4 separate regions of the Homo sapiens genome follow, and regions 2, 3 and 4 are each linked to region 1. The links come from fine-mapping of genetic effects on gene expression. A gene starts in region 1. Each other region holds a variant in brackets. All regions are shown on one strand. Distances are between the middles of the regions. Region 1 holds the start of MRC2 (mannose receptor C-type 2). Region 2 overlaps TLK2 (tousled like kinase 2). Region 3 overlaps MRC2 (mannose receptor C-type 2). Region 4 overlaps MRC2 (mannose receptor C-type 2).

What was found. PIP is the estimated chance that this variant, and not a neighbour inherited with it, causes the effect.
Region 2: its variant is fine-mapped to the expression of MRC2 in aorta (GTEx, PIP 0.95).
Region 3: its variant is fine-mapped to the expression of MRC2 in esophagus mucosa (GTEx, PIP above 0.99).
Region 4: its variant is fine-mapped to the expression of MRC2 in esophagus mucosa (GTEx, PIP above 0.99).

Annotation. Positions count from the first base shown.
Region 1 is chr17:62,623,794-62,631,895 of GRCh38, forward strand. MRC2 (mannose receptor C-type 2) reads left to right here and starts at 3,877. Exons shown (of 30, transcript NM_006039.5): 1 at 3,877-4,127. The coding sequence starts at 4,010. LOC107985020 (a long non-coding RNA gene) reads right to left here and starts at 4,257. Exons shown (of 2, transcript XR_001752961.3): 1 at 4,052-4,257; 2 at 2,644-3,216. RefSeq lists enhancers at 1,602-2,102, 2,103-2,603, 6,758-7,614 and silencers at 3,797-4,236, 4,437-4,506.
Region 2 is chr17:62,555,605-62,563,706 of GRCh38, forward strand. TLK2 (tousled like kinase 2) reads left to right here. Exons shown (of 22, transcript NM_006852.6): 10 at 4,412-4,522. Among named protein-coding and RNA genes, the nearest start is that of MRC2, 68 kb to the right of the region's middle. RefSeq lists a silencer at 3,851-4,209. The variant G/A (reference allele first, on the strand shown) is at 3,861.
Region 3 is chr17:62,676,843-62,684,944 of GRCh38, forward strand. It overlaps MRC2 (mannose receptor C-type 2), which reads left to right. Exons shown (of 30, transcript NM_006039.5): 12 at 427-644; 13 at 1,662-1,804; 14 at 2,958-3,060; 15 at 3,328-3,466; 16 at 3,576-3,611; 17 at 3,958-4,118; 18 at 4,220-4,287; 19 at 4,995-5,095; 20 at 5,393-5,535. It also overlaps the pseudogene RNU6-446P. Among named protein-coding and RNA genes, the nearest start is that of MARCHF10-AS1, 25 kb to the right of the region's middle. RefSeq lists an enhancer at 2,940-3,668. The variant G/C (reference allele first, on the strand shown) is at 3,780.
Region 4 is chr17:62,665,794-62,673,895 of GRCh38, forward strand. It overlaps MRC2 (mannose receptor C-type 2), which reads left to right. Exons shown (of 30, transcript NM_006039.5): 3 at 301-474; 4 at 662-826; 5 at 964-1,077; 6 at 1,597-1,740; 7 at 5,856-6,044; 8 at 6,205-6,359. Among named protein-coding and RNA genes, the nearest start is that of MARCHF10-AS1, 36 kb to the right of the region's middle. RefSeq lists enhancers at 277-867, 3,666-4,425, 4,426-5,184, 5,504-6,004, 6,005-6,505 and 1 more and a silencer at 6,515-6,809. The variant T/C (reference allele first, on the strand shown) is at 4,825.

The DNA of each region.
Region 1 (8,102 bases):
AAGTCTGTACTCCTTCCACTAAACTGTTTGATTGATTGATTGATTAAAGACAGGATCTCGCTCTGTTGCTCAGGCTGGAGTCCAGTGGTGATTATAGATTCACTCCAGTCTCAAATCCCGGGGCTCAAGTACTTCCCCTGTCTTAGCCTCCCAAGTAGCTAGGACTACAGGTGCATACCACCATGACCACGCCCAGCTAATTTTAAAAATTTTTGTAGAAGTGTGGTCTTGCTATGTTGCCCAGGCTGATTGTTAACTCCTGGCCTCAAGTGATCCTCCCACCTTGGCTTCCCAAAGAGCTGGGATTACAAGACCTGAACCGCCACACCTGGCGTAAACTGGTTTTGATGAAATTAGCAGACCCACAGGGGGTGATGCTAATACAGGATTAGACCATTCTCTCATTGCTATAAAGAAATACCTGAGACCAGGCCGGGTGTGGTGGCTCACACCTGTAATCCCAGCACTTTAGGAGGCTGAAGCAGGTGGATCACCTGAGGTCAGGAGTTTGAGACCAGCCTGGCTAACATGGTGAAACCCCTCTCTACTAATTAGCTGGGCATGGTGGCACGTGCCTGTAATCCCAGCTACTCAGGAGGCTGAGGCAGGAGAATCGCTTGGACCTAGGAGGTGGAGGTTGCAGTGAGCCAAGATTGCACCACTGCACTCCAGCCTGGGCAATGGAGTGAGACTTGATCTCAAAAAAAAAAAAAAAGAAAAGAAATATCTGAGGCTGGGTAATTATAAAGAAAAGAGGTTTAATTTGCTCATGGTTCCACAGGTTGTACAGGAAGCATGATGCTGGCATCTGCTCAGCTTCTAGGGAGGCCTCAGGAAACTTAAAATCATGGCGGAAGGGATGCAGCAGTTCACATGGCTGGAGCAGGAGCGAGACAGAGAGTGGAGAGGTGCTGCACACTTTTAAATGACCAGTTCTCGTGAGAACTCACTGTCATGAGAACAGCATCAAGAGGATGGTGCTAAACCATTCATGAGAAATCCACCCCCGTGATCCAATCACCTCCCACCAGGGCCCACCTCCAACACTGGGGATTACAATTTGACATGAGATTTGGGCGGGGACACAGATCCCAAACCATATCACCCTCAGTACCTGTTGCTGGCTGACAGTTGGTCAGTGTCTAGGGGAGAACCATTCTCAGCTTCAGTTCCACGATAGCGAATACCATCTTGGCAAAAATCCCCTGGACAAGTCAGAGACCTCACTAAGTCTCCAGCATCTAGCCTGATGCCTGACACATACTGACCCTCAATAAACGGCTGTTCAACTGTGGGCACAGGAATGGTGAGGAGGCTGTGGGCACAGAGGACGCTGGCCCTTCTTTGGAAGCAGATGAAGGTCTGGGTGTTGATGAGGGGTTCCTCGAAAGTCCCATGCTGCTCACAACACCCAACACTCCTACAGACTGTGACCATGTTCTGTTGACAACTGAGCCTGCACAGGATCTTTATGCAGTAGGGAACCGGCCCGGATTCTCCACAGGGAGAATCTCCCAGATGTTTCCCCGCTTTCTGCCCCAAAGTCAAGATCAAAAGCAGTTGGCAGCTGCAGACATCAGCAGAAGTCAGTGGAACACAGTGTGGAACCATGTCGCGCTGGAGGAGGAAGTCTCGCGCTGGAGGAGGAAGTCTCACCCTTGACAGAGACTAGAACTGGGCCTTAGAAGCTTGAACCAACCTCTGTCCCTGCGAGAGCAGCACACTTTTGTGCTCCTCAGCCCTTGCGTCTTCTTTGCCTGGAATATGGCAAAACGTTTATTTTCCCCCACTAAATGAGGCTCCTCTAGGGCTGCAACTGTGTTTGCCCATCTCTCTTTCTCTAGCAGCTAGCACAGGGCTAGCAGTCGGTGCTTGTTGAGCCGGTGGGTGAAGAGACGAGAGCACACCTCCTGTGTGCCCGGCATGGCGGGACCTGGTGCCGGCAAGTGGTGGGCTCTCTGGCCTCATGCTCTGCGCTGGTGATGTCAAGGGGTGGGCTTCTGTCCTGCCACTGATAGTAGGAGGGAAGGCCAGCAGGAAACGCCGAAACCTACTCAAGCTGCTGGAGAAGGGGGAATCCAGCCCTGTTTCAGGGGAAGGAGTATCCTGTGTTCTGAGAGCGAGAGAGCAGCTTAGCCGGCAAATCCTTAAATCCTTCAGAGATTACAGGATTGTGCAAGAGGGAAGGCCAAGAGGGGGACCTCTGAGGCAGCTCCAGCATGGCCTGTTGTGTGCAGAGGACTGAGATCCCAGAACATGCCACACCAAGAAGACATGTCCCAAGGGGCAGTGGAGCCACAGCCACCAGAAGGGACCTGGCCCTGTCGGACCTGCTGAAGCTAGCCGTGGAGTGCAGGGGCTTTGTTGGTCTGGCTGCTAACCAAAGGGTGGCTAATGGGACCCTTTCCAGGGGCCTCTAGGGGATTTCAGTGGGGGCTTGCTTCGAGGCTCTATTACCACTGGACTGTTTACCAAGAGCCTCAGCCTGACAGAGATGGGAAGAGACGAGTGAGCATTTCTGACCCAACACCCCCACTGCAGAGTTGGGGAAACATTTACCCAAGATAGGAGGAATAAAAAGGAAAAAAATTGAATTTATTTCCAAAAAACATACCAAGGTGGACAAGATAGGAAACAATACAATTTATATTACAGTTTTATTATTATTTAAAAATTTTATATTAACAAAATGAGATGGGATCTGCCTATGTTGCCCAGGCTGGTCTTCAACTCCTGGGCTCAATCTCCTCGGCCTCCGAAAGTGTGATTACAGGCGTGAGCCACCGCACCCGGCCCATATTACAGTTTCATAGTGTTTTTGATTACTCGTGGTAGGAGAAATGTGTCTTCTTTGCACTTGGGGTCTCAACGTCTCAGTCCTGCCCTATGCCCCGAGACCCCAAGAGGCTTTCCCAAGGTCAGGCAGGGAATCCGCAGAGAGGCAGGGCTGGACTCCAGCATCCTGACTCCCCAGTTCGTGCTCTGTGCTGCAGAGACCTGTTGCGTAACACTGAGTAACTGTGGATTGTCTAACCTTTTATGAAATTTCCAGCTGGTCTTTTGCTACCGGCCAGCAGTCCAGTTGGTGGGAGTGATGATGCCGGTCTTCTGAGACGTCCAGTGGACAGATTTTCCCCAGGTTTCTGGATGCAGCCCCAACAAGCAAAAGTGCTACACTCCTGCACCGGGAACACTGACACAGGGGTCACGAAAATGCTAAAACAAGACGTGCAAGAATTGTTGCGCTCCGCACACGTAACAAGGGCTCTGCCTCCCCCTCCCCCAATCTTCGCCCTGGTGGCCAGGCCCTGGGCTCCGCCCCTTCCCCACCAGACCGGGGGAGGGGTCCTCCTCGGCATGGAGGTAGGGGATGCTAGGCTGCTGGAGACGCCCGCAGAAAGAGGCGGGATGGCGGGGCGGATGCTGGCGGCCCGGGTCTGGCCACCTGGGTCAGCTGCACGCCCCCGCCCCGGGCTGGCCGGACCTCGTAGCCCAGGTCCCACCACGCCGTGAAGTTTGCGGAAAGTTTTGCAGTTGCTTCCCCGCCCGCGCCAGCGGGGGAGTTGTGACGCAGCGTCTGGGGATCCTGGCCGGGACAGAAGAGAGGGAAGGCGAGGCGGGGAGAGACTGGGAAACAGAGCAGCAAGAGAAAGGGCGCACGCTGGGGTCCTCCTGGACCCGGCGTGTCCTCCTCTCCGCCACCCCTTTCTCTCCCTCCCGACGCTCTAGCCCCAGACCCGCGCCTCCTCCCCTTCCCCTCCCACGCTGCCCACTTCCCTTCCCCTCTACCCCTCGAACCCTCCTCCCCGGTTCTGCGCTCCTCCCTCCGCCCTCCCTCCGCCCGGGCTGCCTCCTCCCTCCTCCTCCCCGGGAGGCATCACTTCGTCCCGACCCGGAGGAGGACGCGAGCCCCTTGCGGGCGGTCATCACAGCCCAGCCTCGGGGCTGCCACAGCGCGTTGCGCCTGTGCGCCCTCGGTCCCCGCGTCCACTGAGCGCCGCGCTCGGGGATGGGGCCCGGCCGGCCGGCCCCCGCGCCCTGGCCTCGTCACCTGCTGCGCTGCGTCCTGCTCCTCGGGTGCCTGCACCTCGGCCGTCCCGGCGCCCCTGGGGACGCCGCCCTCCCGGGTAAGGCGCTGCCAACTTGGCCAACTTCAGGGCCCGGGCGGGGGGAGCGCCGAGGCGCGGGCCGCTCTCGACTTTTCCCTCCTTTTCCCCCCTCTTTTCTCCAGAAGCGTGTGTGCGTGTGTGTGTGACTGGGTTTTTAAAACTCGTCTCCGCTTTTCTGAAAGCGGGGGAGGAGAGGGGAGGAGGAGCGCGCCTAGAGGTGGGGGAGGACCTGAGTGGAACCAGATGTGGCGGGCGGCGGGGGAGGGGAGCCCGGGGGACTCCAGCAGCCTAGGAGGAAGCGGGTGGGCTCTTGAGGACCCCCGCGCACCGCGCTCCCGGACCACCCGGCGCCGGCCCGTCCTCGGCAGGGGACCTGCAGGGCGCGCCCGGGGAGCCAGGGCTCTCTGTCCGGGAGTTCCCGGGCCCAGTCTCCTCGCTCTGCCCCAGGACTGATGCGTTAGGACGGCTTTCCAACTATCCGCGAGGGTTCGTTTCCCCCACCTTCCCCCCGCCCCCTGCATCTCGTGGGCGTTGATATTTTCTTTTCCACACTTAGTCTTCAAGGAGGCTTGTGGCGCGCGGCATCCGCCCCGCGTGAGCTCGGCAGCCCTGTGAGGAGGCTCCTGCCACTGGGACGCAGCAACAGGCTGGGCGCCGCCGTGCTGTGATGTTGCGTAGCGTGGGCAGCTCTGGGCACACTAGTGGCCCTCCAGAGGGGACAGACCTTGAGCGGCAAAAGAGCTGCTAAAGATTTTAAAACCCAACGAACAGGAAACAAAACAAAAATCAGAAAACCCCAAAACTGTGCCATTCTCTTCCTGCTCCTTATTCAGGGGTAACAGTGAAGTGTGGGGACAGACAGATCCCTCGCCAAGAATCTAAGAGTTGAAAGGAAAGATCCACTTCCTGGGGGAGTGGGGGTGGGGGTGTCTGGAGTGACCGGGGGAATCGCCCGGCCCAGCTTGGTCCTGCTGGCTGTTTAATTGGGGGATGGGGACAGTCCGTGCAGTGTCTGCAGTTTTGTGCAAGGACCAGACAGCCCCCTGGAGAGTCTGGGGCCTCCAGCCTGGCCCGTGCTTGCTGGGTTGGCCTGGCGTGACGTAGGCACAAGACACATATCTGCCAGATGGGAAAGGTGGGGGCCACGGTGACCCACATTCACACCAACCGGAGACCCCCGGGGCAATTCTGGGCCCACCTGGCATTGAATGTGGGACAGACACAAACCAGGCCGGGTAACCCCCTAACCCACTGCAGGGCGGCCTCACAGGCAGTTCCCCTACCTCCTCGCACTCCTGCCTTCCTCTGCTCCTCTGCGCAGGGCCTCAGGAGGCAGGCGGTGGGAAGGGGTGGGGAGGATGGCCATTCCCAGAGCTCCAGAGCACACTTTAAAGCCAGGCCCTGGGAGAGAGTTGTGGCCAGAGTGCTGACTCGGCCTTTCCCCCTGGAGCTTTTCATAGAGGGGGCTGGAAGTGCCTGGTGAGAGGCCCGGTCAGGGAGGACAAGGACGCCTGGAGTGTCCCTCCTCCTCCTGGTCTCTGTGCCTGGCCCTCCCTGGGGCTGTGTCCAGGGATGAATAGCCTCAGAGGGTCCCCTTCCCGTTGGCACTGCATTGACCACACCCTGAGGAGGCTTGGATCTGGGTGGCAGGCAGTGTGAGGTCTTCCAGCAGCAGCTGAGCAGGAGGAGGATGGAGCTGCTGCAGGTTCCTTCCCTCGGAACCGTGCCCTCTGCACAGAGTGCGCTTGCCCCTGCCCTGCCAAATTCCACTGGGCCCTACCCTGGGAAGCCTGTTCAGAGCCTCTGGGCCGAATTCCTTGCCCGAAGAGCTGGCAGCCCCTAGTACCTGGTGAATTACGTTGTTGTTGGGAGGAATTCACCAGCACCAGAGACCAAATAGCCCAGGAAATGCATGTGGGAGGTAGGGTGTGGCAGGCCAGTGCTGCTGGGGGCGAGGCTTATGCCAGGCAGGGCAGGGGCTGCGTGTGGGCAGTTTCCTGACCACCATGGGGGAGCCCTGTGTGCCCAGAGCACGGGGCAGGGGCAGCGAGGCGGCAGTGCCTTCTTGGTGCGTGATGGTGGAATCCATCTTTTCTCCACCTTGGTGGAGTGGCCCGCGGAGACTGTCACTGGAAGGAGTCCTCTTTGTTAGTTGCCATATTACCGCATTTCTGGAGCATGCAGTTTGCTCAGCCTTGAGCCAAGTTCTTGGGGAGGAGGGAAGGTAGAGAAGAGTGTAAGATGCATCCTCTGGAAAAAGAAAATCGTGTGGGAGAATGAAACGTGGAACAGTGAACTGCGTAGGGGGCAGAATGCCATTGGTGGGATGCCTGCCTGCCCAGACCCACGCTCAACCCTTCATGTGCAAGTTCCCATTTCATTTTGATAACAACCCAAGGAGATGGTTATTGTTGGACCATTTTTGCAGTTCAGGAAATGAAGGCTAAGAGGGGTCTGATCATTTACATTGGTCACACCCCTAGTAAGTGAAAGGCTGGAGTGTGGATGCTTCCCGTCTGGAGATTGGAGGCAGGAGAGACCGTATGGGCCAAAGGGTGGCCAAGGCTGTCTGGAGAGAGGCAGGAAGGGGCCACCAGGCTGGGCTCTTCTGGGGATGATGTGGAAGCTTGCTGGCTGGGCCGGGGAGAAGGTTGAGTGAAAGAGGTGCCTGGGAGGCCAGAATGGGGATGGGACCTGCAAGCTGGCTGTGGGGAACCCCAGGGGACCCTTGGAGGTTTCCGAGCAGAGGAATGAGGGGATAGTTGCTGGGAAAGGGGCTTCTGGGAGCTCCAGGGATCAAGTCTCAAGGCCATGGGGTGAGGAGACCTCAGGAAATCTTCCTGTGGGGAAGGTCGGTGCTGCCTAAAGGACAGGGAGGGTGGCATCGGGTACTTGGGGCTCTGACCAGAGTCAGCCAGACCAGCTCCCTACACTTCTGGCCCAGCTTCTGCTGAGTCGTGGGGTTCGGAAACTTCTTACTGTTCCCCCACGCAAAACTCAGTTTTCCTTGCTCCAACCCTCTGGCTCTCTGTGAGTCATCAGGGCCCAGGAGGTGCCCAGCCGAGCTGTGGCTAGTGCTGGGATCCTGGCTCTCTTCTGGGTTCACCTGGGCAAGGTGAGGGTACATGGAGGGGAGGAAGAACCCCGGGTTTTGGCCCCCATTTTTCGCACCAGAGAAATCCTGGCTTTCTGATGCACGTAGGGCACCGTGACTTGGCTCAATGAGATGATTTCGGAAGTGCCATGCAGTTCTCAGGCAGATATTCATTTGAGTTCCTCATCAGTTTAAGCATCGAGGAGGAGTCCTGTTGCACTGTCCATACCCCCAGAGGGATGGAGCGATGGCACCCACGGCTGCGCTGTGCATGTGGTGGGCGCCGTGCTGGGTCCTGTGCTGGCAGTAGCTCTTCGGCACCTCCCATCTCTGAGCAGGTGTCAGAGATTTGCACACACCTGGCGTGAAAATGTTAAAGATGTTAAGGGAGTCACTCAAGGCTGTGCCACCACACCACTAGAAGGTGTTACCAGTGAGATTCGAACCCAGGAGTGGTTACGGAGCCTGAACGCTCCAGTACCATACAGCGTTTCCATCGCATGAAGCACTGTCAGTGTGTGTGTGTTAGGAAAGCCTGGGAAATTCTGCCTTATGTGTTCTCCCCGCCCCCATAACTCCAAGCCCTCTAGGACACCTCTCAATGTGTCCCACCGGGAGGACTCCTGAGGAGGAGGGTGGAGCGAGCAGCCCTCTGTCACATGTCAGCGGTCTGGGCGCTTGGGTCAGCCACTTCCTTGTGGGTCCAGGAGGCCTGGACCGAGCCGCCTGCAGTGTCCTCAGGATCTCTGAGGGACCCCCTCCAAGAAGGCATTGATAAGTGAGTGACTCAAGGTGCCCCAGCATGGCACTCCAGCTTCCCTGAGGTCAAGGATTCACATGGTTGTTCATTCATTCATTCATTCCTTCAGTGGGTGTCTGCTGAGCTCCTGCAGAACTGA
Region 2 (8,102 bases), 68 kb before region 1:
CCTGAGTAGCTGGGATTACAGGCGCCCGCCACCACGCCCAGCTAATTTTTGTATAGTAGAGACGGGGTTTCACCATGTTGGTCAGGCTGGTCTCGAACCCCTGACCTTGTGATCCACCCACCTCGGCCTCCCAAAGTGCTGGGATTACAGGCGTGAGCCACCGCGCCCGGCTATTATTATTAATTTTATATATTTATTTTGAGACAGGATCTCACTCTGTCACCCAGGCTGGAGTGCAGTGGCGCAGTCTTGCAAGCTGTGCGCTCCCCAGTCCCCGCCTGATGTGATCCTCCCACCTTGGCCTCCCAAGTAGTTGGGACTATAGGCATGTGCCACTACATTTGGCTGTTTATATTATTAATTAATTATTAATTTTTTGAGACAGAGTCTCACTTTGTCACCCAGGTTCAAGTGATTCTCCTGCCTCTGCCTCCCAAGTAGCTGGGATTACAGGCATGCCCCACAATGCCTGGCTAATTTTTGTATTTTTAATAGAGATGGGTTTTTGCCACATTGGCCACACTGGTCTCGAACTCCTGACCTGCAGTGATCAGCCTGCCTTGGTCTGCCAAAGTGCTGGGATTACAGGCGTGAGTCACTGCGCTCGGCCTATATTATTATTGTTAAATTACCATTCTTACTGCTATATATGATACTAAGTTCTTATGTATAGAGTATAGGCAGAGGCAGCTTTATGACCAAATTTGTAGTCATTGTTAGACTTGTTTATTCAACTGATTTCAAAACTTATCAGCAGTATTTTTTTTATTTATAGTTTTTGTTTTATCTGTTGATGGTGGTACATTTTTAAGTGATTATTTTTCAGCAAGGATTTGTCAGTGTTAAATTTTCTCTGCCTTACCGACCTGAGAATTCTCTCTTTTGCCCTCCCGTGGAAAGACAACACTGTGTGCAGGATTTTTGTGTCATAACCCCTTGTTCTATTCGTTCTGCCTCTCAAATATAACACGCATTCTCTCTCTCTGTTTCTCCTTCAGTTTTTCAAGCATTTCGTATTTCAGAGAGGTTCATGACCAAAGCAGCAAACACCATAATTTGTTAAATATTACCCCAGGGTGTCTCTATATGTGGGTTTATATATTTTTATTTGGAAAATGTGTGATTATGTCTAACTATGCTTTTATCCCTCTTTATATTGGTTTCTTCTTGACTCTTAGCTTGAATCTCTGATTTCTCTCCTTTATTTCTCACATGTTATGTCTTATTTTAATATGATTGCCCCTTTCTTCTGAATCTCATTAAACACTGTCTTCCATATATTTCTGGCATTTACTGCAGCTCGTGTGAATTTTGATTTTATTGTTTACATTTTTATTTTTTGAGACAGTGTCTTGCTGTTGCCCAGGCTGGGTGCAGTGGCACCGTCATGGCTCACTGCAGCCTTCATCTCCCAGGCTCAAGCAGTCCTCTCACTTCAGCCTCCTGAATAGCTGGGACTACAGGCATGTGCCACTGTGCTTGGCTAATTTTTTTATTTTTTGTAGGAACAGGGTCTCATTATGTTGTCCAGGCTGGTCTTGAACTCTTGGGCTCAAGCAAACCTCCTACCTTGGCCTCCCAAAGTGCTGGGATAACAGACGTGAGCCACCGTGCCAGGCCTATTATTTACATTTTAAATTTCCCTGCTTTTTTCCCTCATCTAATATACTTTCTTACCCCATCTTGTATATTCTCTAGGGTTTTTGGTTCCTATTTCCTAGATATCACGTCTTTTTGCATTTTATGAAATATGACAAGAAGTATTCTAAAATGTTCTTTTGATTTCTATGGGTGATCATTTTCATTGTTTTCAAGCTGATTTTCTGTATTCCTTGGGCCTATTTTTGTTGTTGTTTTTATTTACTATTGTTATTTTTATTTCCTTTCCTCCATCTTTGAATGAGGAGACCCATATGTAGTCTCAGCACTGTGTTGTATTTTTCATTGTTCGGATATGTATACTTGCATGGAGTTGCTCTTATTCCTGTTTTTATTCATCTGGGTGCTGGTTGAATTGCCATCGAAGATTTATAATGAAATGGTTTGTGGGTGTAAAAAGCTCCTTGCCAAATTCCAGTATCTGTCAGGGTTTTGTACAGAGAAGCTCTGCTGTACTGAGGAAGAATTGTGGGCGTGCCTTTCTCCATCATCTGACTCTTTAAGATTGAGATGACAGAGTATGAGAAAAACTTGAATCCTAACTTGGTACTGCTTTAGGAGTTTCAAAAAAATGTTTGCTTATGTTTTCTAATAAGCAATATGTTTCCTTCACTCACTACTGTCCCTTCTACTCCGTCGTCTTCAGACTGTTGCAGTCTTTATTTGTATGTAGAGCAGTACTAAAGGAGTAGATAAATAAAAAAGGAAGACACAGAGGGCAGCTGCCTTGTTTTTAGGTTGATTAGAACTTGTGCTTCTAGAAGATCTAGAGGATCGACAGTGAGGGAAAGACTACATGTCTTGTATATTCTTTCAGACGTCATTCATTGAATTTTGCCATTTTAATAAGATGTTGGGTATGGCTGCATTGGGAGCTACTAGCCAGCTGCTTTTTTTTTTTCTTTTTTTTAATTAAAAAAAAAGGACACAGTGTCTTGCTCTGTCTCCCAGGCTGGAGTGCTGTGGTGCAATCACAGCTCACTGCAGCCTCGACCTCCCAGGCTCAAGCAATCCTCAGCCTCCCGAACAGCTGGCATCAGAGGCGCATGCCACCACACATGGCTAATTTTCAAAATTTTATAGAGACTAAGGTTTTGCCATGTTGCCGAGGCTGGTCTTGAACTCCTGGGCTTAATTGATGCTCCTGCCTCGGCCTCCCAGAGTGCTGGGATTATAGGCATGAGCCACGCTCACCAGCTGCCAGCTGTTACTTTAAACATGAACTCCTCGAAGACATTAGTGTCAGAAGCCACAAAAACTTAGAATTATTAAAATTTTAAATAACTGCCAAGAGGTTGATGGATTTCATACATTTGATTATAGATTTCAAGGGAACACTCACCTTATGAGTAGACTGGGTTTTCCATATACATTAAATGATCTTTGCTTCGTAGATTCTTTACTATGAATTTGGTAATCACACTTACCCAAATGTAGTTACACTCTGTCTTTGATAATATGGTTCTGTACAAAAACTAACAGGAAGAAATTATGCTGATGGGGAGAGGAGAAACATTTGGAGACAGAAGCTGTTTCTCATGGGTTACTTTAAAAATGATGCTATATTATACAAAAGAAAAAATGATAAAAATTTTTAATGAAGCTACAAGGTCTCAAAAATTGAGTATCGTGTGATATCTTCTGTTTGTGCCTTTTAGTATTTTAGGAACACATAACAGGTTTTTCTTTTTCATAATTTAAGTGAGTTTTTATGAGGTAACATTATTTGCTAGAAGAGCTGAGATCTTTTTTTTAACACAAAAGGAATAAATTCAGGACTTGCAAGTCAAATTCGTCCTTGGGTTAGTGGTTCTTTCCTTCTCTGTTATTGCAGGAGGCTTTAAGTTTTTAGTCCACACTGTAGGCTTCTGACCACAGCTAAATTAGCTGTATATTTACATTCTGGCATTCTTGAACCAGGACGTTGTTTGTTTGTTCTGTCTTTTGTGGGCATGGGCGTGCCTGGCTTCTCTGGTGAGGAACATTTATGCAAATTTATCTTTCTTAAATGCGACTAGAAAAAGAACAAAGCAAACATAAAATTCAGTAATTTTTTTGTATGTGCTTAATCACTCTTTGTATTTTAAACATTCATTGTAGTTTATTTTTTTTTTATTTTTTATTTTTTTTTTTGAGATGAAGTCTTACTCTGTCACCTAGGCTGGAGTGCAGTGGCGTGATCTTGGCTCACTGCAGTCTTC[G/A]CCTTTGAGTTCAAGCGATTCTCCCGCCTCAGCCTCCCGAGTAGCTGGAATTACAGGCTCCCGCAACCATGTGTGGCTAATTTTTTTATATTTAGTAGAGATGGGGTTTGACCACGCAGGCCAGGCTGGTCTTGAACTCCTGACCTCAAGTCATCTGCCTGCCTCGGCCTCCCAAAGTGCTAGGATTGCACGCATGAGCCACGATTCCCAGCTTTAACATTTTTTTAATTATTATTTTGTGATAGCTTAGGTGTTTGTGATTACAAGAGTAGCTGTAACTGGTTATTGGCAGGAGCAAAATATGATCAGTAGAAAAACATGCCCAAATTAGTAATTCAATTTATCATTTACAAATAGATGATATGTTATGAGAGAATAAAGGAATGAATTATTTACTTTTTCTAAGACATAGTTACTTCTTACCTGTTTGAACTTTAATTTTGCTTTTGATAAAACAACATATAGAAATGATTTTTTTTTCTCTCCCTAGAAACTGCTTTTCCATTAATCTTCTTCCTTGGAGCTAATTAAAAATTTTTTTCTCATTGAAGGCCAACTGTGATTTGAGACGGCAGATTGATGAACAGCAAAAGATGCTAGAGAAATACAAGGAACGATTAAATAGATGTGTGACAATGAGCAAGAAACTCCTTATAGAAAAGGTTAGTGAATAATGTTGGTCTAAACTCTGTATCCCAAGATACTCAATGTGTGTCATTGTGTGGCTTCTTATTCCTTACTTGAGATGAAAATATTTAAAAGTAGAGCTTTTTAGGAACATGATTTGACAATTAGAATTTTTTCCTTACATGGACACCAGACCAACCATCCAGAGTGTTAATTTGGGATATGCTTTGTTGCTGTGCATTGCTTTGAGTGTGATATTGAACAGAGACAGCTTGTCCTAGTTGAGTTTATTTGGGGTATTGCTCTCCTATATTCTTATATTCATTCTATCAATTGAAGTGAGTATCCTATTACTATTAGAATCATTAACAATAGTTGCATTTTTGTTTCAGAGATGGCATTTAGAATAACTTATGTATATAATAATGTGATAATTAATGCTTTGTGCATTAAAAAATTAAAGTTGTCATATACCTGCATATGATTACTTAATTGGCTGATGTCCTCTTTATTATATTCATTGGTTAATTATCACTTATCTCTGTTAATAGGTATTAGTAACTATTAGAATTTTTTTTTTTTTTTTTTGAGGCTGAGTCTCATCCAGGCTGGAGTGCAGTGGCATGATCTCAGCACACTGTAGCCTTCGCCTCCCAGATTCAAGCAATTCTCCTGCCTCAGCCTCCTGAGTAGCTGGGTTTATAGGCGTGCGCCACCATGCCCGGCCAATTTTTGTATTTTTTTTTTAATTATACTTTAAGTTTTAGGGTATATGTGCACAACATGCAGGTTAGTTACATATGTATACATGTGCCATATTGATGTGCTGCATCCATCAACTCGTCATTTAACGTTAGGTGTATCTCCTAATGCTGTGCCTCCCCACTCCCCACAACCCACAACAGGCCCCGGTGTGTGATGTTCCCCTTCCTGTGTCCATGTGTTCTCATTGTTCAATTCCCACCTATGAGTGAGAACATGCAGTGTTTGGTTTTTTTGTCCTTGCGATAGTTTGCTGAGAATGATGGTTTCCAGCTTCATCCATGTCCCTACAAAGGACATGAACTCATCATTTTTTATGGCTGCATAGTATTCCATGGTATATATGTGCCACATTTTCTTAATCCAGTCTATCATTGTTGGACATTTGGATTGGTTCCAAGTCTTTGCTATTGTGAATAGTGCCACAATAAACATACATGTGCATGTGTCTTTATAGCAGCATGATTTATAATCCTTTGGGTATATACCCAGTAATGGGATTGCTAGGTCAAATGGTATTTCTAGTTCAAGATCCCTGAGGAATTGCGGGGTTTCGCCATGTTGGCCAGGCTGGGCTTGAACTTCTGACCTCAAGTGATCCACCCGTCTCGGCCTCCCAAAGTGCTGGGATTACAGGCGCTCACCACTGCGCCCAGCCTATTTCTTAGAAGTTTTAAGAAGACAGTACTTCCTAATGACAATATTACAAGAACAAACTAGAGGTTTGAGATATACTGGAGATTTATTTTCCTGAAATGTTTGGAATGTTGTTAAAAAGACAGGAAACACTGTCTTTCAGTAAAAGTGAAATGAATTATTTTATTGAGGCCGAAGATACTGGGGGAAATTTTGTTTCATTCTTTGACTCATTAATCAACTTTATAGAAAAGAAACCACTTTTTAAAATTTTTTCTGAGAGTGAGAAAAAATAAAATATATGCTAATCCAGATAATTTCTTTGAAGTTTTAGAATACTTCCTGAAATCAGCAGAGATTCAGCCAGTTGTTCTAAACTCTAAATAGCATACTACAAAAAGTAAACATAATGCTGTCTCTGAGTTCTCACAGGAAAACAACTTTCTCTTTGCTAGGAGTAGTATATAACAAAATTTAAATTTGTTTCCAAAAGAACTGAAATTGTAGTATCTACTTACTGACTTTCTAAATAGGGAGTATTTATTGAGTATCTGCTACACCGTGATGCAATATAAAGCAGCATAAATGGACTGGGTGTGGTGGCTCACGCCTGTAATCCCAGCACTTTGGGAGGCCAATGAGGGTGGATCACTTGAGGTCAAGAGTTCGAGATCAGCCTGGCCAACATGGTGAAACCCCATCTCTACTAAAAATACAAAAATTGGCTGAGTGTGGGGGTGTGCGCCTGTAATCTTAGCTACTCTGGAGGCTGAGGCACGAGAATCACTTGAACCTGGGAGGCGGAGATTGCAGTGAGCCTGAGATCATGCCATTTCACTCCAGCCTAGGTAGTAGAATGAGACTGTCTCAAAACAAAAAACACACAAATGAAAATGCAATCATAGAGTGCAATGTTATCTTTCATAGAATTTGAATACTTTAAAAATTTTAAAACTCTTATAACTTAATCATAAAAAGACAACTCATTAATAATGAGCAAGAGACTTGAACAGATAGTTTACAAAAAAAGAGTGTATAAAAATACGCAAATGGCAAGCATGAAAAGATGTTTAATGTCATTATCCATCAGGAAAACTCAAGGTAAAACCAGCGTGAGATAGTACTACAAACCCAGTAGAATGACTAGAAATAAAAAAAACCTGACAGATCCAAGGGTTGGTGAAGATGAGGGGCAGCCTGATTTGTTACACCAATAGAAATGTAAAATATTACAGCTACTTCAGAAGGTTTTTGGACAGTTTTTCTATTTGAGATAAATATGTACTAAATCCTGTGATCCAGCAGTTCCTCTCCTGGCATTTACCCAAGACAAACAAAAGCAAATGTTGGCCGGGCATGGTGACTCACACCTATAATCCCAGCACTTTGGGAGGCTCAGGGAGGAGGATCACTTGAACCCAGGAGTTTGAGACTAGCCTGGGCAGCACAGCAAGACCATCTTTATTTTTAAAAACAGAAGAAAGTAAATGTCCATAAAAGTACTTGTATGAGAATATTCATGGGAATTTTATTCATAGCCAAAAAGTGGAAACATCCTAGGTGTCTGTTAACAAGTGAATGTAGATACAAATTATTATATTGTCATACAGTGGAATACTACTCAGTAATAAAAAAAGAATGAATTTCTCATAATAGAACAGCTTGCATGAATCTAAGAAACAAAAGACACAGTTCCTGCCATCAGAGGGTTAACAGTCTACATGAGGGTGGGCGAATAAGACACATTCACATATATAAGGAAACCTATTCAGATGAGCAGTGCACATATTAAGAATTCACTAAAATTAGCTGGGTGTGGTGGCACACACCTGTAGTCCTAGCTACTCAGGAGGCTGAGGTGGGAGGATCATTGGAGCCAGGAGTTGGAGGCTGTAGTAAGCTGTGATTGCACTGCTGCACTCCAGCCTGGGCAACAGAGTGAGACCCTGTCTCTTAAAATAAAAAAAAAGAAAATAAATTCACTAAAATAAATCAAGGGCAGGGGACTAATTGGAGAAAGCTATAAAGAAGAGGAAAAATGTGTTCTGGGCATGGAAAACTGCAGCTATAAATTGCCTGTTGGTTGAAATAGACAGGACATCTCAAGGACTTTTATCCCATGGTATCATCTCTCACAGTACTTTATTCTTTTCCTTTGAATTCTTTACCGCGTCTGTACTTAGAATTACCAATTAATATATTTAGTGGTTATAACTC
Region 3 (8,102 bases), 53 kb after region 1:
AAGTGTCTAGATTACTTCTCTATCTGGGCTCACAAAAAAGAAACAAATAATCTCTTCTCTATCTGGACTCATTTAAAAAATGTGTTCAGAATACTGAGCGCAATACAAGTGCTTGTTATTACTATTATTACCATTTCACATTCATTATCTTTCTAACCCCTTCAATAACCTGATGAGGTAGATGATGAAGCAGGCTCGGTGAGGTTAAGCAGCTTGCCTGAGCCCTCACAGTGGGTGAACCCAGAGCCAGGGCTCTGCCTCCATTCCCTTCCTCCCTCCTGGCTCCAACCCCAGAGAGCATGTCTCTGAAGAGGTGGCCAAGCTGGTTCCCAGTGTGAGGGCCGTGCTAGTGCCCTGCCGGGATGTGAGGGAGGACCAGACTATGAATCCTTCTCAGAGCCTGGGTCTCCCTTCCCTCTCCTTCAGGGTACAGCCGTGGGGGCTGCGTGGCGCTGGCCACTGGCAGCGCCATGGGGCTGTGGGAGGTGAAGAACTGTACCTCGTTCCGGGCCCGCTACATCTGCCGGCAGAGCCTGGGCACTCCAGTGACGCCGGAGCTGCCGGGGCCAGATCCCACGCCCAGCCTCACTGGCTCCTGTCCCCAGGGCTGGGCCTCGGACACCAAACTCCGGTATTGCTATAAGGTAGGGCAGCCTGTTGGCCGGGTAGGGGGCAGGGGGAGGACAGGAGCAAAGAGACAGTTTGGATGGAGGTCCCAGTGGGACCAGCCACAATCCAGAGACACACCAGGCTGCAGACGGGTGATTTCTGGTGAGACTTGTCCATGGAATCTGGAGGCCTGGTGCTCAGTAATCATTTGAGGAATTGAGGGAACCACAGATCATTGATTTCAGAGGTTCCCAAATGTTGGGGCCAGCCTAGCTGTTCTTCAGAATTGCTTGGGGAACCTGATAAAAATAAAATCTTGGCCGGGCGCAGTGGCTCACACCTGTAATCCCAGCACTTTGGGAGGTCAAGGCGGGTGGATCACGAGGTCAGGAGATCGAGACCATCCTGGCTAACATGGTGAAACCCCATCTCTACTAAAATACAAAAAATTAGCCAGGTGTGGTGGCAGGCGCCTGTTGTCCCAGCTACTCGGGAGGCTGAGGCAGGAGAATGGCATGAACCCAGGAGGCGGAGCTTGCAGTGAGCCGAGATCGTGCCACTGCACGCCAGCCTGGGTGACAGAGCGAGACTCCGTCTCAAAAATAAATAAATAAATAAATAAAGATAAAAATCTAGGCTGTCACAATGGAGATTTAGATTCATTAGGTCTGGATTGGGCCTGGTAATCTGTATTTTTAATCACGCTAGGTTTGGGAGCCACTGGCAGAGTCCGAGGTCTTTTATTATGCACAGAAACTGAAGTCTAGGGAGAAGAAGGGACTTACCCACGTTAAGCTGTGGCTCTGCTGGGATTAGAGCCCAGATCTCCCTGCTGGTCAGGGGATGGGGCTCAGGGGCCCTCTCCAGAAGGTGACTGTGCCAGCTCCCCTCCCCAGACCTCTGCAGATGAACAGGATTGTCCTTAGCTAGCCTTAGCCCCCTGTCCAGTAAGGCTCCAGGCCCCTCCTCTGCCATGGTGGGAAAGGCAGTAGGTGCCCCCTGAGGGGTGGGCCAGTGGGGACAGCTTAGACAGCTGGACTCTGCCCCTGCAGGTGTTCAGCTCAGAGCGGCTGCAGGACAAGAAGAGCTGGGTCCAGGCCCAGGGGGCCTGCCAGGAGCTGGGGGCCCAGCTGCTGAGCCTGGCCAGCTACGAGGAGGAGCACTTTGTGGCCAACATGCTCAACAAGATCTTCGGGTACTGAGCCGGGCTGAGGCGTGTTAGGAGGGCACCCGCACACGTGTAGGAGCAGGCATGGCCGACAGACCCTTGGTTTTGTTGGGCGAGCAGGGGGATGGCAGAATGTGGGTGACCCCAGGGAGGCCTGCATCTGCTGCTGGTGCCAGGACCATCTTGTCCTCACTCAAGTAGCCATGGTGCCCTGGCATCTTGGGAGAACAGGCTGGTGTGATCCATGCACTCATAGGAGACTGTGTTTTGCTCACCATCATCCCCCCAGCAATGCTCCAACAGACCCACAAACTTACATATGTACCCCCCACCCCATTGCAAAATCTCCCACATGCTGGTCCTGGCAAGTGTTTCCCCTCACCTTACACCATCCTACAATGACCCACACTCCTCAATCCACAGTTTTTCCTGAGAGATAGGAGGAGAAAGGCCGCAGCTATGAGGATTTGCCCATGGGCCTCCCTCTGAGACACCACCTCTGTCCTGGGCTCTGAGCATTAGCACGTGGAATCCCCTAGCACTGGGAAAATCGAGATGGATCTGGGCTTCCTGATAGCTTAATTGAAGGGATCTCTCCTCTCAGCAAACATTGAAATTACATTATTTGTCTCATAATTACAATAGCTCATGGTCATCACTTCTCACCACGTACCAGGCACTGTGCTAAACATATAGTCCTCACTCAAGCCTCCCGACAACCCTATGGAGCAGACGTTAACCCCTGACCCTTGTGGGTTGATAGAGAGGTTATTTGCCCAAGTTCATGGGTGAACGGATACTTGAATCCAGGTTTATTTAACTCCAGAGCCGTAGATCCCTGCCACCTCCTCATCTGAACTTCCTAAACTCCGTAAAGTAAAAGCCTGCAGAATCTTGCTGGACAGGGCACCCCCACCCAAAAGGAACCCAAACAAAGGGGAGGGGCCACTGCCCCTTGAGTGGATGGCTTGGTCCAGCTCTCCCCAGCTCTGTCTTGTGGGGAGAACTTTACCGAAGTGACCTCAACGCTGTATCGATGGGTCAATGTGAAGCCCAGATGGAGAGGCCCCAGGCCCTGGGGGCTGCCCCGGTCACAGCTGCAAGGGACAGGGGGCACGTTTGGGTTCCTGCCCCTCTCACTTCCCATCTCTTCCGTCCCCACTCCTGGGTTGTGCTGAAGTGAATCAGAACCCGAGATCCACGAGCAGCACTGGTTCTGGATCGGCCTGAACCGTCGGGATCCCAGAGGGGGTCAGAGTTGGCGCTGGAGCGACGGCGTAGGGGTGAGGGGGCCTGGGGTACTTGGGACTGCGAGGCCGGGAGCTTGGTGGGCGGGGCCTGTTTGGGGCGGGGCCTGGAGGTGGGCGGGTTTTCTTGAGGGCCGGGCCCCCAGTCGGAGCCGGCTTCAGGAAAGCAGGTCCGAGAGGGGTCACCCGGCCCCCGGTGAGAATTCGCAGCTCAGGCCAGGCCTCTTGTTCACCTGTTCCGGGCATGGGGGCGGCCTGCACCTTGCGCCTCACGTTCCTCTTCCCTCCACCCGCCTCCTCCAGTTCTCTTACCACAATTTCGACCGGAGCCGGCACGACGACGACGACATCCGAGGCTGTGCGGTGCTGGACCTGGCCTCCCTGCAGTGGGTGGCCATGCAGTGCGACACACAGCTGGACTGGATCTGCAAGATCCCCAGAGGTTGGCCGGAGTGGCGCTGGGGGACGCGGGATGGAGCGAAGGGTGGCGGGGCCAGGAATTCCAGGGAGGGTCTCCTTTCCTCACAACGTCTTTGTCCTTGTTCCCCTAGGTACGGACGTGCGGGAGCCCGACGACAGCCCTCAAGGTGAGCACCCCCCAGCCCATCCCGCTACCCATCGCGTGGGAGAGGGCGTCAACTCTGGGGTAAGTCCCGAGAGGCCTGAATGAAATGGAGGGGATGAGGAGTTCCGGTCGAGAGAAGGGGGACGGGGTTGGCTCGGACGGAGGCAGCCACAGCCCTGTTTGCTTCCGT[G/C]TGGGAGGCGAGGCAAGCCTGGGGCCTGGGGCCTGGCACGGTGCCTGCCTGGGTCCGGTGTGCCTGCAGGCTCGCCTGCTGCCGCCTGGCTCTGCCCCGGCCCTGCCGCGCCCGCCTCCGGGGCCTGGCGTGCAGCCTCTGCCTGGCCGCCGCTCCCACGCCCGCGCTGCTCCTGCAGGCCGACGGGAATGGCTGCGCTTCCAGGAGGCCGAGTACAAGTTCTTTGAGCACCACTCCACGTGGGCGCAGGCGCAGCGCATCTGCACGTGGTTCCAGGCCGAGCTGACCTCGGTGCACAGCCAGGCGGAGCTAGACTTCCTGAGCCACAACTTGCAGAAGGTGGGCATTGGATTGAGCAGGGGGCTGCAGGCTGGGGGAGGGCAGGCCCGGGATGAGGGCAGGGGGCTGCCTACCCACACCTGCCCGCCTGGCTTCTCCAGTTCTCCCGGGCCCAGGAGCAGCACTGGTGGATCGGCCTGCACACCTCTGAGAGCGATGGGCGCTTCAGGTAGGAACCCAGGCAGGCAGCAGATGTGGAAGGGGGCTGGCTGTCCACACACGGAGCACAGAGGCAGACTTGCATTTGAATCCAGCCCTGCCCCTTCCTTGCTGGCTGTGTGGCCTTGAGCAAGATACTTAACCTTTCTGGGCCTTGGTTTTCTCATCTGAAAATGGGAATATGAGGCCTGCCTGGTAAGATTTTTGTGAAGATTAGAAATAACATATGCGAAGTGCTTACGCAGCATCCAGCACATTAGTTACTAAATAATGGCAGCTCCTGTTACGTCTGGTGTCATTCATCATGACTAAGGCCCTCTCGGGGAAGTGGGCAGAACATATGATGATCCGGGGGCCTCTTTGTATTTGGTGCCTACTTACCATGTACTGGGGGGCTTGAGGCAGGAAGGACCAGGAGCACCTGGGACTCAGAATTTGAGCTTGTCTTTTTGCCCTTGGGCTTCCTGCCCTGGAGTCCTCAGGCTTCTTTTCTGGAGCAGCAAGTGTCCAGGGACAGCTGGGGCCTTATCTAGAGGCACCAGGTCCTTGGGTCTTTGACTGCCCTGAGCTCAGTAGCTCCACCCCTCAGCCTACAGCCACTAAACCCCAGAACCTGGGCCCTTCCCTGCCCCCATTCCTGCGGCCTTCATTGCTGCATCCGGTGGAGGCCCAGCTGGGGGCCGGTGCTGGAGTTACCTCTGCTCCATGCCATTGCAGATGGACAGATGGTTCCATTATAAACTTCATCTCCTGGGCACCAGGCAAACCTCGGCCTGTCGGCAAGGACAAGAAGTGCGTGTACATGACAGCCAGCCGAGGTGAGGGCAAGGTGGGGGCAGAGTGCGCAGTCAGCTGTGCAAAGGGTTAATGCTGGGCGAGCCTGGGCAGAAGTCATCAGTCTGTTCTCATTCTCTTTGTTCCCACAACCCAATAAAGGCTAGACTCAGCGAGGGGTGGACCTGTCTCCATGGTCCAGAAGACTTGAATTCGGAGCTGGACACAGGCCCTGAGCCTCTGCCCAGACTCCTCTCAGGGCATGAGGCTGAGTGTGCTGCCAGCCATGCCCTGCCCTGCTCTGCCCTGGGGGTGACTGCCCTCCCCTCCCCTTTCCGCAGAGGACTGGGGGGACCAGAGGTGCCTGACAGCCTTGCCCTACATCTGCAAGCGCAGCAACGTCACCAAAGAAACGCAGCCCCCAGACCTGCCAACTACAGCCCTGGGGGGCTGCCCCTCTGACTGGATCCAGTTCCTCAACAAGGTAGGAGGTGGCAATGGGGCACCCAAGGGAGTCAGGGGAGAGGACGTGAACAGGGAAAGGCTGAGCCTCAGGAGTCCTGGCCTTTTGGCAGCACCAAACTCATGGCCTCTTGCCTGTACCCACCAACTTCTCTTTCACCTGGCTCCAGTACCAGGGCCAGACTCCTTGGAAAATGACTCACTGTAGTAGCACCTTCCAATCCTCCGGGAAGCAAGGTTGTCCAAATAATTTGGTGAGTGTTCTAGATCAGTGATTGCCAAAGATTTTTTTTTTTTTTTTTTGAGAAGGAGTTTCACTCTTGTCACCCAGGCTGGAGTGCAGTGGCGCGATCTCGGCTCACTGCAACCTCTGCTTCCTGGGTTCAACCAATTCTCTTGCCTCAGCCTCCCGAGTAGCTGGGATTACAGGCACCTGCCACCACCCCTGGCTAATTTTTGTATTTTTAGTAGAGATGGGGTTTCACCATGTTGGCCAGGCTAGTCTCGAACCCCTGAACTCAGGTGATCACCTGCCTTGGCCTCCCAAAGTGCTGGGATTACAGATGTGAGCCACCGCGCCCGGCCTGATTGCCGGCCTGATTATCAAAGATTTTGATAATGAACTCCTATTAGTAAAACAAAATATTGAGCTTACATGACCAAACTATGTGTGTGTACATTTAACTTATATATGTATATGTGTGTGTAAATAAAACCTACTTCCATACTAATATGACTAATATTATATATAGTAAAATATGTATAAGAACAAAAGAGTATAAAACATTAGCTAAAGATTTTTAAATACTTTTAAGTTTAAAACATTTTTTTGGCTGCGCGTGGTGGGTCATGCCTGTAATCCCAGCCCTTTGGGAGGCTGAGGCGGGTGAATCACCTGAGATTAGGAGTTCGAGACCAGCCTGACCAACATGGAGAAACCCCATCTCTACTAAAAATACAAAATTAGCTGAGTGTGGTGGCACATGCCTGTAATCCCAGCTACTCGGGAGGATGAGGCAGGAGAATTGCTTGAATCCTGGAGGCGGAAGTTGCGGTGAGTCAAGATCGTGCCATTGCACTCCAGCCTGGGCAACAAAAGCGAAACTCCGTCTCAAAAAAATAAACAAAGAAAAAAAAAACAACAAAAAAAACACCTTTTTTTTTTTTTTTTTTTTTTACTAGTGGTATGAAAACATTTTTTTGTGCTCACTCAAAAGTGATTAATTGGCTGGGAGAGGTGGCTCACACCTGTAATCCCAGCACTTTGGGAGGCTGAGGCAGGAGGATGACTTGAGCCCAGGAGTTCGAGACCAGTCTGGACAACATGGAGAGACCATGTCTCTACAAAAAATAGGAAAATTAACCAGGTGTGATGGTGCACACTTGTAGTTCCAGCTACCCAGGAGGTGGGAAGTGGGAGGATCTCCTGAACCCAGGAGGTAGAGGCTTCAATGAGCCATGGTCATGCCACTGTATACCACCCTGGGTAATGGAGTGAGACCCTTTCTCCAAAAAAAAAAAAGATCAATTATAATAATTATTGTTTAATATGCTCACTTTGGCAGCACATGTACAAAAAGTGAAACAATACAGAGAAGATTAGCATGGCCCTGCACAAGGATGCTATGCAAATTCCTGAAGGGTCCATATTTTGCGTAGTTCATGAAAGTTGAAGGTTGTTCAACAAAAAAATTGTCTAAATAATTTTAATAAGAGCAATGTGATTACATGTACTTCACGTTTTTAAAAAATTTTAGTCTGACACTTTATGACTCATGACTCACAGGTCTAACGTGTTGAAAATCAAAGTTATTTCAAAACATGCATTTCATGGTGGCTATAGATTAAATATGCCTCACAAAGACAAATAGATTGAAGTGAAAAAAGTTCATCCATCATTTCTAAATAATTCTCCCCATTTTTAGTCCTTCTACCAATTAAACAAACATTTTTGTTTAAAAATTGGCTAGTAGGCTGGGACGCTGAGCACTGGGAGGATCACTTGAAGCCAGGAGTTCGAGACCAGCCTGGGCAATGTAGCAAGACCCTATCTAGAAAATTCTTTTTCCAAGTGTTTTGAGTGTGCAGGTAGGAAAGTTTGGGGCACTGACATTAATCACTATGGATGCATTTCTCAACACGTTTTTACAACACCCCCTCCATAGTGTGAGTTTCTTCCCCACAGTCGTTATTTTTCCATGCACAGGCTGATTTATTAGACCTGATTAGTCCTTCATTGTTTTTACCTGGCGATTGACAACGAGTTCATACCAGGAAGAGAAGGTTGTCATTTTCCTTGTTATGTGCCAGGGTAATTGGCATTAATCTCAAGCCATGGCTTCTTTGCAGGACATTTTAAGAACACTTAGCCCTGTTGTGAAGATTAGATTAGTTAACACTGAATAATATAATCCACAAATCCTTGTCATACACAGGAAGGCAGCCAGCCTCTTAGTGTCATGGATCTCCTGCCCTCCTCAGAATATTCAAAAGAACATTACACGGCCAGGCGCTGTGGCTCATGCCTGTAATCCCAGCACTTTGGGAGGCCGAGGCGGGTGGATCACCTGAGATCAGGAGTTTGAGACC
Region 4 (8,102 bases), 42 kb after region 1:
CCCTCTGTGGGTGACTTGGAGGCCCTCTTGCCCAGCTGGAGTTTGGATGGGATTAGGGGTACTAGGGAGCCCCTTCCCAGCCCTATGAGGTGTGCAGCAAGACCTCTCTCTGGTTCCTGGGCTGACTCAACAGCAGAAGAAGCCTTAAAGCCACTATGGGGTGCCATTGCCTCTCCCACCTGCTGATCCCTGTGAACACCCAGCACTCTGGGTTTTAGGGGATTTCTCCTGAGGGTCGAGGGGCTTGGCAGCCTCTGGTGTCCAGATGCCAAGGGCCTGGCCCCTGTCCACCCCCTGCAGAGGTCTACACCATCCAGGGAAACTCCCACGGAAAGCCGTGCACCATCCCCTTCAAATATGACAACCAGTGGTTCCACGGCTGCACCAGCACGGGCCGCGAGGATGGTCACCTGTGGTGTGCCACCACCCAGGACTACGGCAAAGACGAGCGCTGGGGCTTCTGCCCCATCAAGAGTGAGAGCTGTTGGAGCCGTGGGGGCGGGGGCAGTGTTCCTGGAGGGAGGCTGGTGCTGAGGGGCCCCGGGGCCCAGGGTGAGATACTGCCCCCTCCCCTACCTAGTGTAGCCTTTTGGTGGGGGAGGGTCTGCACTCCCGAGGGACCCTGGAGGGGGCCTGAAGGAGAGGGCTGTCGTGGTGGCAGGTAACGACTGCGAGACCTTCTGGGACAAGGACCAGCTGACTGACAGCTGCTACCAGTTTAACTTCCAGTCCACGCTGTCGTGGAGGGAGGCCTGGGCCAGCTGCGAGCAGCAGGGTGCGGATCTGCTGAGCATCACGGAGATCCACGAGCAGACCTACATCAACGGTGAGCCGGGGCCTGATGCCTGCTCGTGCCTCTGGAGGGCCCGGGCCCTTTCCGCTTGTGGGTTGGGGAGAGGGCGATGGGGAGCGGGGGAGGCTGGGGCTGGGGATCCCCTGTTCAGTGTCCCTCCTTGCTGTCAGGCCTCCTCACTGGGTACAGCTCCACCCTGTGGATCGGCTTGAATGACTTGGACACGAGCGGAGGCTGGCAGTGGTCGGACAACTCGCCCCTCAAGTACCTCAACTGGGAGAGTGGTGAGGCACAAGGTTGGGGGCGCAGGGCAGCATAGGGGCCCCGCGGGCTCTTGGCCTCCCATGGACTCCTCTCCTCATGTCCTCCTGCAGAGGGGCAGTGTGGGTAGGGGAAGCACCGACCTCCACCCCCCTCCCCAGACTGCGCCCCCCTAGCCCATGTAGGGCGGCGCTGCCCCAGGCCGAAGGTCTTGGTGCATATGGACTGGGTGCCAGCCTCCACTCACCTCTTCAGCCACCCCTGTGGGCAGCGGGCACCAGCGCACCCAGCAGCCTGGACGGGGAGGCCGGGGCGGGGCTGGTACTGGTTACTGGGTAGAAGGTTCAAGGCGACGTGCACCCAGGTTAGAAAGCGCGGAGGACCCCGTGGTCTGGGGCGGAGCTGGAGCTGAGCACCAGGCTTCCCGAACTGGCTCAGGCTTCCGAGGGAGCAGAGGGAGGTAGGAGGTTCTGAGCAGGGCCCCGGGAGCCACGGTGTGAGCTTCTCTCTCCGGGGGTGCTGGCGCCCTGCCCTCCCCACAGACCAGCCGGACAACCCCAGTGAGGAGAACTGTGGAGTGATCCGCACTGAGTCCTCGGGCGGCTGGCAGAACCGTGACTGCAGCATCGCGCTGCCCTATGTGTGCAAGAAGAAGCCCAACGCCACGGCCGAGCCCACCCCTCCAGGTGAGCCAGGGACTGTGCCGCAGGGTGGGGAGGGGCTCCCAGGGCCAGGGACACAGCCACAGAGCCGTGGCAGGCCCAGCCTCTCCTCCGGTTACCACCACAGCACAAGGGGACTCTGGATCCTCTGACTCTTATTTCATTGTTCAGTTAAAGTCTGAGCAAATTGGAATATGTCATTAATTCATTTGGGGAACATGTGCTGAGATCTGTGTTAAATGCTGGCAATACCCACTGTTACCTCGTAGAGACCACAGTCTGCTGGAGGTGACAGACATCTCAATGCAGTTAGACTATCCCAGGTCATGAGTGATTATAGAAATATGGATCAGTGTTAGAGGAGCATAGAGAAGAAACTGATTCAGCTTCTGAGAGTTAAGGAGGGGTTTATGGAAATAACATTTGATTTGGGCCTTTCAAATTGAGTCTAAGTTTAAAAGATATAAAGAGGTGTGGGGGAAGGGCATTCCTGGCAGAGGGAAGAGCATATGCAAAGGTGTGGAGGCCTAGAACTACACTGCAGCTTTAAGGGGTGGTGAGTGATGGCCGGGCACCGTGGCTCACACCTATAATCCCAGCACTTTGGGAGGCCAAGGCAGGAGGATTGCTTGAGCTCAGTAGTTCAAGACCAGCCTGGGCAACATAGCGAGACCCTGTCTCTGCAAAATATTTTTAAAAAATTAGCTGAGTGTGGTGATGCACGCCTGTCTACTAGGGAGGTCGAGGTGGGAGGATTGCTTGAGCCTGCAAGGTTGAGGCTGCAGTGAGCCTCGCTTGCACCACTGCACTCCAACCTGGGCAACAGAGCGAGACGAGACCCTGCCTCAAAAAATAAATAAATAAATAAATAAATAAATTTAAAAAAAAAAAGAAAAAAGAAAGAAAAAGAAAAAAATGGATGGTGCCTGTTGCAGTTTGGGTGGAGTATAGATTCTAACCACTTCAAGTATGGTCATCCAACCAGCAGCACAGCATCCCCGGAGGGCTTGTTAGAAATGCACAGTCAGGCCCGCCCCAGAGTAATTGAATCAGAACCTGCATTTAACAAGATCCTCAGATGATTCATGTGCAGACACAGTTTGGGAAGCCCTGGCTTAAAGGGCATGGTGAAGAAGAGGCAGGTTGCAGCCAGTCTCTGCAGGGTCTTGGCTGCTGGGCCAAGTTTGGGTGGGGCCAGGTAGGCTGTGGGGAGCCTTTGAAGATGTTTAAGCCAGGGAGTGTCTGGTTCTCGTTTGTGATCATAGAGACAGCTTTAGGGGCCTCGTGGAGGAGTTGGGGCAATGGACAGGGTCTGCTTTAGGGATTCTGCCCCTTACTGCTGTGTGGCCCTGGGCAAGCAGCTTAGTCTCTGGGGTGCAGAGTCCTCATTGCAAATGGAGAATGAAGCCACCCCCCTTGCAAGGTTGTTGTGAGGAAGGCTGGAGATCTGGCCTGGCACGAAGGAGTTTTTCTGTAGTTGGCTGTGGATGTTTACTGTGGTGTAGGTTGGAGGGGCTGTGCAGTTTCCTGCGAAGCTGTGGGGTGGTGAGGAGACTTTTACAAAGAAAATATGGCAACACACACACACACACACACACACACACACACACACACACAACACTAACTACAGACAGTAAAGAGTTTACAGAGCAAAACTTCTGCTCCTGACCATGGAAGTCTTGCCAATGATCGACTCAGGACTGGTTTTTTTGTTTGTTTGTTTGAGACAGGGTCTCACTCTGTCACCCAGGCTGGAGTGTAGTGGTGCGATCTTGGCTCACCACAACCTCTGCCTCCTAGGCTCAAGAGATTCTCGTGCCTCAGCCTCCTGAGTAGCTGGGATTACAGGCGGGCATCACTACTTCCCGGCTAACTTTTGTATTTTTAGTAGAGACGGGGTTTCACCATGTTGGCCAGGCTGGTCTTGAACTCCTGACCTCAGGTGATCTGCCCACCTCGGCCTCCCAAAGTGCTGGGATTACAGGCGTGAGCCACCGCACCCCGCCTTTTTATTTTTATTTTTATTTATTTATTTTTTGAAACAGAGTCTCGCTCTGTCGCCCAGGCTGGAGTGCAGTGGCACAATCTCCACTCACTGCAACCTCCGCCTCCCAGGTTCAAGCGATTCTCATCTCCAGGTTCAAGCGATTCTCATGCTCCAGCCTCCCGAGTAGCTGGGATTATAGGCATGAGTGTGCCACCACGCCCGGCTAATTTTTTTGTATTTTTAGAGATGGGGTTTCACCATGTTGCCCAGGCTGGTCTCGAACTCCTGTCTTCAAGTGATTCACCCGCCTCGGCCTCCCAAAGTGCTGGAATTACAGGCGTGAGCCACGGCTCTGGCCTGATTCAGGACTGCTGACCACTGCTTTATCTCCCATTCCGTAAGGGGCCAGGAGCAGAAGCTTGAAACGTCAGCAACCCGATCTAGGGCACCTCCACCTCTAGCTGGAGGGAGCCTTGGGCCCTAGTCCAGTCCTCCCACAAGCACCTTTCTGAAGGAAGGGGCCCGCTGGGAGGCCCGGGTGTGGGCATGCCTAGCCTATCTGTGGCCCCTTACCAAGTCCTCTGTCCTCTGGGTCTTCCCGGACCTGCAGACAGATGTAAGGCCTCGGATTTCCGCCCCTCTGCCCAGCCCATATCTCTCTGCACGAGGCATATTCTAGGCAGGTTCTGCTTTCCCGGTCTCATCACTTAAGTCCTGTCATTTCGAAGGCAGGCGCCCCGTCGTGTCCCCAAAGCATCCACATTTCCCAAGCTCCCTTCCGGTCCTTGAGGCCCCTCGGGTCTCAGCAGCCACTAAAATCCGCTTGTCTGGGGCGGCAGCCTCAGGTCTTAGCTCATTGGCTAACAAGAGATGATTGACAGGTCCTGAGCCAGAGAGCGAGCCCACCGGGCTCTCAGTCCGCCCAGCTTTGCCGGGTCTCCAGGAGCAGGTGTGGCTGGACCACTGGAATCCCAGTCTGAGGCCGTGTTCTAGTGGGCGCGCAGTTTCCTGCCCGACTAGGCAGAATCCTGCCCGAGCATGACACTGTGGGTGGTTTGGTGAAGTCCTGTTTTCTCTTGCCAAGACCAAGTAAGGGCTTGTTTGCCTCAGCTGCCCTCGGA[T/C]CCCAACCCCTAGAAGGTGAACCTGAAAGGCATGGAAATCGGGGCAAGGGAGGGCCTGGGACGGGTGGATTTCTCAGCCCTGGGGTTCAGGGTTAGGAGTTAGGAGCGGGGAAGGAGTCCCAGCTGGGGGATGGGGCCGATCTGTAGTGACTTTGAGCACCTCCTAATGTTCTCGGTTGCCCGTCCACCAAGACCTCAGATTCCTGGTGGGCTTGCCTGGGCCCCATTAGTGGCTCAAGGTCCCGTTTCCCAGTTTTCTCCCTCCTGGGCTTCCCAGACCTGCACAGAGTGGGTGCTCAATAAATGTTATTTGAGAGAATAACAGTGATTCCATTTACTAGGCAGGGGGCCATAAGCCAAGCTTGAATCTCATAGCAGGAAACCCCATTTACAGAGGGAGAAACTGAGGTTCATGGGGCTGGTTTGTCCTTTCTACCCATCGTTTATTGACTGATTGATTGATGCATTGATTGAGATAAGGTCTTGCTGTGTCGCCCAGGCTGGAGTTTAGTGGTGCAATCATGGCTCACTGCAGCCTTGACCTCCCCGGGTCAAGTGATCCTCCCACCTCAGCCTCCTGAGTAGCGGGACCACAGGCGCACATCACCATGCCTGGCTAATTTTTTATTTTTTATAGAGATGGGGTCTCCCCTTTGTTGCCCAGTCTGTTCTTGAACTACTGGGCTCAAGCAATCCTCCAGCCTTAGCCTTCCAAAGTGCTGGGATTACAGGCCTGAGCCACCATGCCTGGCCCACCCATCGTATTCTGAGAGCCACAGCCAGAGGAAGTGTTCTGTCCTGGGTGGAATCTGCCACCACGACTTGGGTCTCTGTCCCGGGGCTCCAGCAGCCCTGTAAAGTTTTGTGTTTTTTTAGCATTTCCAAGACCTGTGGTGGGGACCGGGATTGATCTGGGAGAGTTTGGAGAGGAGGTGACTGGGAGGCCTCGCCTGTGTTGACGTCAACCCAGTGGGTTGGTTCCCAGACTGGGCGGCTCAGTCCCTGAGCAGCAGCCTCATGGGTCTCTGCAGACAGGTGGGCCAATGTGAAGGTGGAGTGCGAGCCGAGCTGGCAGCCCTTCCAGGGCCACTGCTACCGCCTGCAGGCCGAGAAGCGCAGCTGGCAGGAGTCCAAGAAGGCATGTCTACGGGGCGGTGGCGACCTGGTCAGCATCCACAGCATGGCGGAGCTGGAATTCATCACCAAGCAGATCAAGCAAGGTGAGGAGCTGCCCGCCCACGTGTCTGGGTGGAGGGCAGGGCCTCCCACTGCCCCACCCATCCTGTCCAGGAGCCTCAGAGAATGTTCCTTCCTCCCTACTGGTGGCTGAGGCTGACCTCTCAATGTTTTCTCTCCCCTCCTCTCCTGCTGCACCCCCAGAGGTGGAGGAGCTGTGGATCGGCCTCAACGATTTGAAACTGCAGATGAATTTTGAGTGGTCTGACGGGAGCCTTGTGAGCTTCACCCACTGGCACCCCTTTGAGCCCAACAACTTCCGGGACAGTCTGGAGGACTGTGTCACCATCTGGGGCCCGGTGAGATCTCCCTCTCCCTATCACAGGGCCACAAAATACACCCCCAACCTCCAGGTGCCACCCCAGCTGAAGGACATCCTAGTTACTATCAGAACCTGCCTGGAACCTCTTACCTCTCAGCAGTCCCCCTCCTCCCCACCAATGCCTTCCCTTCCATGTGAGAGACTGCCGGGGCTTGAATCCTACCTCCACCTCCACCTCCAAGTAGCCAAGTCACCTTGGGCAAGTTACTAGAGGGTCACTGGGGAGATCAGAGGAGTTAATTCTCGTGAAACCTTAGGCACAGTGCCTGGCGCATTCTTGGTCTCCTCCCAGCTGCCCTTCCCTGCCAGAAGGTGGCATCAGAACCCACATTATGTGCAGATACTTTGCAAGCAGGGCTGCACTCTGCCAGCCCTCGCCCCCAGTGCTCTACCCAGTCCAGGGTCCTGTCATCTCAAGAGATTGTTGGGTTTTATGACAATTTGCCATGGTTTGGGCTTAGATGTGGTGTAAGTGAAGGAATTGATGGAGGGCTTCAAGCAGAGATGAAAGACCCTTAAAAAAGGGACAAAGCCAGCTGAGTGTGGTGGCTCATGCCTATAATCCCAGCACATTGGGAGGCTGAGGCAGGCGGATCACTTGAGGTGAGGAGTTCGAGACCAGCCTGGCCAACATGGTGAAACCCCATCTCTACTAAAAATACAAAAATTAGCCAGGCGTGGTGGCAGATGCCTGTAATCCCAGCTACTCCAGAGGCTGAGGCAAGAGAATCGCTTGAACCTGGAAGGCAGAGGCTGCAGTGAGCTGAGATTGCACCACTGCACTCCAGCCTGGGTGACAGAGCAAGACCCTGTCTCAAAAAAAAAAAAATAAAATAAAAAGGAGAAAGCCGTAGGGACACAGACCACCCTTCCTAGGGACAGACAGGATGTTCTGCTGTCACATACTGCAAACAGTGCTGTGGACTGTAGTGGCAGTCATTTGCCTTAGGGGATGCTATTTAAGAATTTTAAAACAATTATGTATTGAGTATCTACCATGTGCCAGTCATTTTTCTGGGTGCTAGGATACACAAACACGCCTGCCCTCAGAATGGAGCTTAGAGACAGACATACTGCTGGCTGGGGGCCTGTGGATACTGGGGAGGGCGAAGACAGAAGCAGGGGCCGAGGACTAAATTCCTCCTCAGCTTCATCAGCTGAGATTCTGGTCTGGGCACACTGGCCTCTGCACACTCTGGCCCTGCAGGCACTAGCTAGACGCCTTGGGAATCCAAGCTGTCTATCCTGCCATCAGTTACTCTAACAATCTTAGCCAGTTTGTTTTTGATATTTATAAAACGAGTTATCAATAATGTAAAAGGACGCCTTTCCTTTTTTTTTTTTTTTTTTTGAGATGGAGTTTCACCCTGTCGCCCAGGCTGGAGTGCAATGGCACGATCTTGGCTCACTGGAACCTCTGCCTCCCAGGTTCAAGCGATTCTTCTGCCTGAGCCTCCCAAATAGCTGGGATTACAGGCATGCACCACCACAACCGGCTAACTTTTTGTATTTTCAGTAGAGATGGGGTTTCACCATGTTGGCCAGGCTGGTCTTGAACTCTTGACCTCAAGTGATCCGCCCACCTCGGCCTCCCAAAATGCTGGGATTACAGGCATGAGCCACCGCGCCGGGCCAGGATGCCTTTCCCATTTAGACAATGCTTGTTAAGTTTCAAGGCGTTTGCACATGAACTGCTTGTGCTCTCATCCACCCTGTGAGG